Linked DNA regions of Homo sapiens: region 1 is linked to region 2. Evidence: fine-mapped expression QTL. A gene starts in region 2. The other region holds a variant in brackets. All regions are shown on one strand. Distances are between the middles of the regions. Region 1 holds the start of LINC02231 (long intergenic non-protein coding RNA 2231). Region 2 holds the start of WIF1 (Wnt inhibitory factor 1).

The links. PIP is the estimated chance that this variant, and not a neighbour inherited with it, causes the effect. A credible set is the group of variants that fine-mapping cannot tell apart.
Region 1: its variant is the best candidate, but not a certain one, in a credible set for the expression of WIF1 in cerebral cortex (GTEx, PIP 0.66).

What each region holds. Positions count from the first base shown.
Region 1 is chr12:64,989,679-64,994,072 of GRCh38, forward strand. It overlaps LINC02231 (long intergenic non-protein coding RNA 2231), which reads right to left and starts at 2,613. Exons shown (of 4, transcript NR_146276.1): 1 at 2,599-2,613. LOC107984522 (a long non-coding RNA gene) reads left to right here. Exons shown (of 2, transcript XR_001749177.2): 2 at 1-968. RefSeq lists an enhancer at 2,950-3,476. The variant G/C (reference allele first, on the strand shown) is at 1,794.
Region 2 is chr12:65,118,816-65,123,209 of GRCh38, forward strand. WIF1 (Wnt inhibitory factor 1) reads right to left here and starts at 2,490. Exons shown (of 10, transcript NM_007191.5): 1 at 2,229-2,490; 2 at 1,602-1,741. The coding sequence starts at 2,376. RefSeq lists a silencer at 2,651-2,810.

The DNA.
Region 1 (4,394 bases), 130 kb before region 2:
AAGTCTTATGCTGTAGTGAAAAAACAGAGCAATTGTTGGGTTTATGAAGATAAGCTAGTTTCTACTGAGGAAAGATTCCAGTGGCATTCCTGGGGGCTCAGTCTTGGTACTAGCAGGGTACTGGTAGTATGGAATTTGAAAGTAATCCATAAAATGAGAAAAATCTTGGGTTTGACCAACCAGTCCCCACAGAGGTTCAGGTGAGTAGAAGTCATCTTTTGAAAACACTTAATAAAACATCATGCAGTTTTGGATCCTGTTTCCTTAGACACTGCCACCAAATACATAAAGGAAATTTCTCAGAGGAAAGAAACATATGACATGTTCATAGGAGCAGCAAACCATTGGTTTGCAGGTAGGCTTGGCTTTTCCAAGGTGTTCTAACCTTTATGCTCTTCTAATGGTTCTCCAGATTACTATGACTTGTGTTAACAAGATAATGACAACATTGGATACCTCTTTAAATCAGCAAACTGCAGTTCTTAATCATTATCACCTCCTGAACAAAAACCATGACCAACGGTACTCAAATGCTTTTGAGCTGCCTGTAAGGGAGGAGACCACCCCTCATATTGTCTTATGCCCAATTTCTGCCTCCAAATAAAGAAGAAGTAAAAACTAAAAGGCAGAAACGAAATCCACAAGCAGACAGCCCGGTGCCACACCCTGGGCCTGGTAGTTAAAGATCGATGCCTGACCTAATCAGTTATGTTATCTATAGATTACAGATATCGTATAGGAAAGCACTGTGAAAATCCCTGTCCTGTTTTGTTCCGATCTAATTACCAGTGCATGCAACCCCCAGTCATGTACCCCTGGCTTGCTCAATCGATCACAACCCTCTCAAGTGGACCCCCTTAGAGTTGTGAGCCCTTAAAAGGGGCAGGAATTGCTCACTCAGGGAGCTCAGCTCTTGAGACAGGAGTCTTGCCAATGCTCCCGGCCGAATAAACTGCTTCCTTCTTTAACTCGGTGTCTGAGGGGTTTTGTCTGCATCTTGTCCTGCTACACCTATATTGCCTGAACTTTGATTTGGGTCAAATTGATTTGGTTGGCAGAGGCTCCTGTTAGAGAGTACACCTCAGGCTTTTGGAATTTTTGGTGTTGTCCTTCTGATAGTCATCATAGTAGCTCCCCTGGTGTACCATATCCTCTCAAGTCTTAAATATTTGTATGCAGCCATCCACTGAGTGTTGAGTGGTCTCACTTTGACTTGATCATCAAGAACATAAAGAATTATTCAACTGGTGTGATGTCATGACTTGTGAATTTCATGCTGAGACCAAATAAGTTTGTTTATGATGGTGACAGAGAGTGGTATCAATGCCCCAGGTTTTGAGAGGTGGCATTGTTAAACTAAATTTGGGGGGATTGTTAAACTAAATTTGACCTGAGAATGCCTCCATACCTGAGTCCTTACTAATGAAATGCAATGTAACTTAGTACTCACACTAACTGAAAACCTGGCTTAGGCATATACTTTTGTCACAAATGAGTCACAGCCAATCACAGCAGCTGAGCTTCAGTCAGTCACAGGCAGCCAACTCAAAACACCATGTTCACATAAAGCAAATGCTGAATAAGGCAAACACCAGCTGTAATCAATGGAGCTCTGTACCTCACTTCCATCTTCTGTTCATAAATGCTATCTGACCACATTGCAGGCCAAAGTTTTTCTGAACTTGTTCTAGTTTTGAGGGCTGCCCAATTCGTGAATTGTTCTTTGTTCAATTAGACCCTGTTAAATTTAATTTGTCTGAAGTTTTCCTTTTAGCAACTGAAGCATGCAGCAG[G/C]TCTGACATCATTAGGCAATTGCAATTCTCTTTCCTGCAGAGCTAAGACTCTGCCTCCTGCCTGATTCTCAAAGCAGAGCTCCAGGGAGCAGCAACACTAATTGTACAGGGCTGGCACACTAGAGAAAACCGATTTGCTACCCCAGCTTTAGGGCTTTTTCTAACTTCCCTCCAAAAGGAAATATACTAGTGCCCTGCTCACTCCCTGAGGTACTGTCTTCGCTAAGGTATGATGCTTGTTCATGGATTAATGTGTTTTCCCTCCAGGTATATGTTTCTATTTAAAATGCAGAGAGTGTTTTAATGTGGAGGAATGACCCTAATGATAGAAGTTTTAATAAGTCAAATGAGCGGAAAGGCAAGACAATATAACAAAAAGAGCACCAGTTTTGGCATAGCAGGCACTCAATAAATGTAAGTTCCACTTCTTTCCTTGTGCTGAGTGTCTCCTAATTACCTAGCACTATGGTAAATGCCCAAGAAACTCTAAGATATAAACTTTTGGTTTAAGAAGGCTTTATTTGTACTGATGAGATGATATGAGAAAATACTTTCTTTTTCTCTAAATACTATTACATTGTAGGCAGCAGACTGGCCAATACAATTAATTAAACTTTAGAAAGAAAAGATAAAGCCAGTCATCTGCTATGTAGTCTATGCAGTCCCAAAACAGCAGCTGAGTTTTTTTCACGGAACTCTTCTGGGTATTGGAAGGCAGACTAAATACTTTACTTGCTGCCCAGCAACACGAAGATGGAAAACACATCTTTTGATTAATTAAAAGCAAAAGGTTGGAACTACTTACCTTTCCATTCTTTAATTAACAAAGCCCACAGGCCACATGAGGAAGTAATAACACTCATTATGTTGTGATGAAGGACTGTGATGATGAGTTAAGTCAGATGGGACTCCAGGCACGATTCCCTTCAAGGCTTCCCCAAGACGTGCCCCGAATGTAGACAGATCCTTACTTGTTGAAGAACTGTATCTCACCAGTGCTGGCATATGCTTCTTCAGAGAGTGCATTCCCTTTTGCAAGGGAAAGAAAAGTCCTTAAAACAAAAGGTTATATTTTAATTAAGCCTAGGCATCCTTTCTGCAATTTCCTTTGTTGAAAGAATACCTCCTTTGATTTGTATCTGTTGGTGTTAGTCTTTGGAATAAAAAGAGATTGATCCCTTCCAGGCAGAACTGTCCCAACTGAATGATCAAAAGCCTTGCTAGCTGACATACAAACCAACAAATTATTTTCTTTTTCTCCCTTAAATCTCCCAGGAAGCACCTTTTGAAAGATAGTCTTCATTCCCCAGGCTTTGCTCACCATCCTTCATGCCAGTGGGTGGTCTCAAGGAATTTGAGGAAATGGCAAACACTCATTCTACCTGCAGGTGGAAGCCTGACCTCCTGCCTTTCAACTTCCTCCAGAATCCTTGGAGGGTTTTTTCTTTTCTTGTCACCAAGGCACCGCTGAAATCTGTTAGTCAAATAGCTTTCTACCCATGAGGAAAGTGAGCTTTGATATGTATTTGCTTCTCATTCAGCTATAGCAGCACCAGTTAAGATGCTGCCACCACATGAATGTAAACGAAAAATAAAACAGCAGGCTCAGTTTTCATTCTAAAGTCCACTCTCTGATGGGAATAAGAAATAACTCAATAGCATTAGTATGGAACATTGGGTGTCAGGATTTTTGCCTTCATTTCCCATCTTTTTTTTGGAAATTAAACTCAGTACCTCTATTATCTTTAAGAATCAGGGATAGTGATGATATTTTTCCCCCAAGAAAGAAAATAAGGGCCTATAAAAATGCTCTTTTTAATGCTCTCAAGGGGAAATGCTGAATTGAGAAGCAATTGGGTTTTCTAGAAGTCCAACAAACGTACTTTTTAAAGTGGTTCTCTGATGGAATACCTATAGAAAAACCTTGCTTCTTCATGTGAAGGTTTGCATTCACCAAGTCTGATTGTGTAATAGAGGTTACCCTTTTTAAATTAAATGAATTCTAAACAAAGTTTTACTTACATTTCCATTTTTGCTTTTTAAGAATGGAGTGATTGAGTCTTTTTAGGAAATGTATACACTTTGTGGCTAACTTTGCATGCCACATTGCAGCATGCTGTAAGTTTTATAGCTCTTGAAATACCATGTTAGCAGTAGGAATGCTGATGCTTCTATGATTACAGTGGTCCAACTGCAATGCTATAATCTCTGTCACTGAAAAATCTCATGCTGCTAAAACCTTGAAGACGATCTGAATTGTAGATGGTTTTAAAACTAGCTGTAGGCAATCCCATTACTGGGCATATACCCAAAGGAATATAAATCATTCTATTATAGAGATACATGCACACATATGTTCATTGCAGCATTATTCACAATAGCAAAGACATGGAATCAACCCAAATGCCCATCAATGATAGACTGGATAAAGAAAATGGGGTACATATACACCATGGAATACTAAGCAGGCATAAAAGGAATGAGATCATGTTGTTTGCAGGGACATGGATGGAGCTGGAAGCCACTATCCTCAGCAAACTCACAAAGGAACAGAAAACCAAATACTATGTGTTGTCATTTATAAGTGGGAGCTGAACAATG
Region 2 (4,394 bases):
TTCTTCAACAGACAAACATAAGTGAGAGAGAAAGAGATAGAGAGAGGAGGGAGGGAGAGGGGGAGAGAGAGAGAGTGCGCACGAGAGAGCTATTGGCACTTTCTGCTTTTCCTACAGTTAACCAGTTACCAAACCCTTTCAGATGGAAGGGTGCAGTTCAAACTGCCTTTTATTGATTCTTACGAACCCATAAAGGTATAGGTTAAAAAATGTCTTTTCAAAAATATAGAATTAATTGGCCACTTAGTTAATGACCATCTGATGAGCGGTCAGCCATAAGTAAACAGATTCAGCTGAAAAGGAGAAAATGAAAGGCCATTCGTTGGTTTATTACTGATTTCACAATATTCCCAACTTAATTGTTTATGAAGTATCTATGAAGAGGGACTTGTAGGGAGAAAAGGAATAATCTCCCTATAGAGCAATGGAAACCTCGATGAACCTATCTGCAAAATGGGGGTATTAACAATAGATGACTTTCCTGTTATAAACCTCAGTGAATCCAAAACCTCAATTTTTTTTAACCACATAGCAATGGAAGTGTTGAAGGTTCTAGATTTGATCTATTTCAGAAGAAGAAGAAAAAGAGAACAGACTTGAAGGGAAAAAGACAGCTAAAAAGGTCATGTCTATACCACAACAGGTAATTAGAGGGAAACAAAGTGGTTTCTCAATTCAAAATAGTTATTTTTTATAAAGTGTTTTCGGTATCACATTCTTCTTGAAAATAATCATTTAAGGAACTTTAGAATAAAAGACCGAAAAATGTGGTTTTAATTATAATTATAATGATTTTCATAGTAGACACATTCTACCAACTAATAAGCTGAAGAATGCATTGCTTACCATTTGTCCTCTAGAGTAAATTCTCCAATTGTACAAAAGAAATTAAATTTACATAAGCATTTTATTCTTTCTTTCTAAAATTAGAAGCCATAAAAATGTACAAAAGGTAACATATAAAAGATGCTAATGTGCTAAGGAATAAAAGGAATGCTTCTTCATAAAAAATAGATTCCAGTTTTCTTTTCCATATGAAAGCATTTAAAATGGTAACTTGAAAACATAGGCTGCAATATTTTATAACGTTCTTACATGACACCTTTTGGGTCTAACTTCTACCAGAAATATGCAACATTCACGTTCCAGTGAATAACATTCAACATACTGACTTTTTAAAAGTGCACAATGTCAAAAATACTTACAAACTTTAAAATTTGTTGTAAAGTATGAAGAATGTCACAAGTGATTAGAAACTACTATGCAAAAAGAGTCCTTTAAGTATGTTAAATTTTAATGTCAATGATCACAGAAACACAGTGATGTTGGTATTGGAGGTCTTTATATTTCCAGCAGCCTCAGGACACTGAGTCTTATCAAAATAATGGGCTTAGGCACAAGGCTTGTTCTTTTCTTTTGAAGATCATTAATTGATATGGCAACTTGAAATAAATGGAAATTAATTCTTTATTTGCTTTGGCAATCAGATGAGAAATTTCTCTTAATAACTGTAAAATGTACCAGGCTACACACTATACAGTACTATTTCCACCTGCCATAAGGCAGTGGAAATATTAAAGGGTAATTTTCTCAGAACTTACCTGCCCTGCAGCTTGCCAGGTAAAATTCATGGAATGGATATTGACAGGAATAGCTGGCATTCTCTGTTGTGCTTTTCTGAAATCATGTGTAAAAGGTGCCATTTTCCCCTCTGAAACAATCAGGATATCTTCTTCAAATCCTGGTTTTTAAAATAATAAAACGATCAAACCAGGTAGACTTGAAATCATCTAAATCAGAAGTTTCAAGCAAAAAGAAAACCAAAGAATTAGTGTGGGTCATTTCTGTTCACAAGCATCTGCCTTCAGTACCATCAACGCTACTAAGATTAATTTTTCTCTGTGGATGATGAGAATGATGCCAACAGACCCATGCTTTCAGGGAAAAGGGATGGACATGGAGTTAACCGACGCAAAAAAATGCCGGGTGCACCTAAAAACGCAGGGCTATAAAAATTAACAACAGCATGATCAGAACACTAGATCAGCTTTGGTTTCTTAAAAGAGAAGTTTATAAGCTTTCAGATGGAAAATATCTAATTAAAAGAGGGGAACACTCTTTTGTGGAAATTAAGTTTTAAAACACAAGAAACGCAGGTATCCCTCTTTCTTGAAGAGTGGAGAGAGGAGGACATAGGCAGGGGAAGGCGCTGGAGGCGGGGGCCTTACCTATGAGTACTCTTGCCTGGTGAGCATCGATCCATAGGTACAGGCTCTCCTCCTGCGGCGGCCCGGCCTCCGCCCGCAGTGCCAGCAGGCACAGGAGGATGCTCCAGAGCCAGAGCGCGGCGGCAGGGAAGGCGCTCCTCCGGGCCATGCTGCTCAGGACCTCCTCGCTGCCGGGAAAACTCCTCGTGCCGCACCTACGCAACCTGGCGCCGTCAGATACTCTGCTGCGCTGCAGCTCCCTCAGCCAGGGCTGTTCCCGTTTAGACGGCTGGGCGCGTCGCCTCCCGGCCTGGGTGCCAAGGAGCCTGCGAGAGCAGGAGGAGGGGGCAGGCAGGACGCGGGAGGAGGAGGGGGGGACCAGCGGGCGCGAGTCGCGCAAGAAGATGGGGCGCGGGCGGGAGTGGGGGCGGCAGAGACGTAAGACTGGCAAAGCTGGCGAGGCCAGCAGTCAGCGGGGCAAATAGAGCGAGAACAGAAGAGCGGGAAGGGCTGGCGCGAGCGAGGTGCGAGCGAGGAGTGGGGCCCGCGAGGCCTGGGCGGCCGCCACTTGGGGGCGCTGTGGGGCCCCCCCGGGGGCGGGGCCGCGAGGGACCCCCGAGGCTGCATTCACAGTGCGGTGCGCCCAGTGGAGCGCCCGCGAAGTGGGCGTGTAGGGCTGGCGGACCCGGAGAAGGGCACTCAGAGACCCCTGGGACATCACTCGCCACCTCCTCGGGCCAAGGGAGGCTTCGGGGGAGGGAAATGGGGAGAGCAGACAACGCTGGGCTTGACTGAGTGCTGATGATGGTGATGGTGATGGTGATGATGATGATGATGATGATGATGAGGTGATGACTCCTGTTCCTCCTCCGGCGCTCACTGAAGGCGCAAATTGCCCTTCGTCTCCCTTTCAGCCAGTAGGATTCCTCTCTCCGCCAACCCTATGCGCTCCGTTCTGCGATAGGCTGGCACTTTGCGCGCTCCCAAGCAGTTAAAACTCGAGGCTCGACTGTCCGATGGTGCCGATGGCAGGCGCTGGCCTTGGCTCGAGGCGCAGGGCGTCCAGCTGGTACTTGCCCGACACCCAGCATTTGGGGATTCCCGTCTGTCTCCCTGATAACCCGGCAGTGCCCGGAAGAGTGCCCTGGGCCCTGGACGATAGCTGTACCTGACCCTCCGGGGTAGGGCTCCTCTAACATCGTGGATATCTTCACGTTTGCTGATATTTTTTAAAAGTTGCTGAATTCGGCCGGGCGCGATGGCTCACGCCTGTAATCCCTGCACTTTGGGAGGCCAAGGCGGGCGGATCACCTGAGGTCAGGAGTTCGAGACCAGCTTGGCCAGCGTGGTGAAACCCCGTCTCTACTAAAAATGCAAAAATTAGCTGGGCATGGTGGCGGGGGCCTGTAGTCCTAGCTACCCGGGAGGCTGAGGCAGGAGAATCACTTGAACCGGGAGGCGGAGGTTGCATTAAGCCAAGATCGTGGCACTGCACTCCAGCCTGGGCGATAGAGCGAGACTCCGTCTCAAAAAATATATAAATAAATAAATAAAATAATTTTTTAAAAGTTGCCGAATTCACAGGTGCGTGGGGGCAAAACCAAGGCTCTGGCCTCGTCTGTGAGAAGCATGCTTGGCCGGCAGTGGGCTGCAGCATAACCTATCCACCTGGCCCAGCAGAAAGAACTGATTTTTGCCTCCTGCCTAATTCCTCGGATGCACAAAGAAAACGGAAGCAAAAGGGTTTTGTTTTGTTTTGTTTTTAATTAAAAAACTTAGCCTTCGGACTCATAAAAGGTTCATTTACTTGTGTTTGTTCTTTAGTACCCGAAGCTGTGACAAATGCCTCAAGGATCAAATGTCTGGGGCTGGGCGTGGTGTTTCAATCAGTCCTTTATAGAGTAGCAGATGCCTCAAGAGGGAAAAACAAACAGAAACAACAGAAGAGATGGTGGACATGTGCAGGCATCAAGTTAAATCAGTGTTAGGTTCTGAGAATATAGATTTCCAATGAGGAAATATTTGCAGCTATACAACCAACCAATAGAAAAAAAAAAAAGGAAAAAAGGAATTAGACAAGAAGTCTATGACTGATTTGAACTTGCAGTGTCTTAATTTTTAAAGTACTTTTATTTTAAGTGCTTACTTAATCCTCACAACTCTTAAGTAGGTACTACTATTATTCTT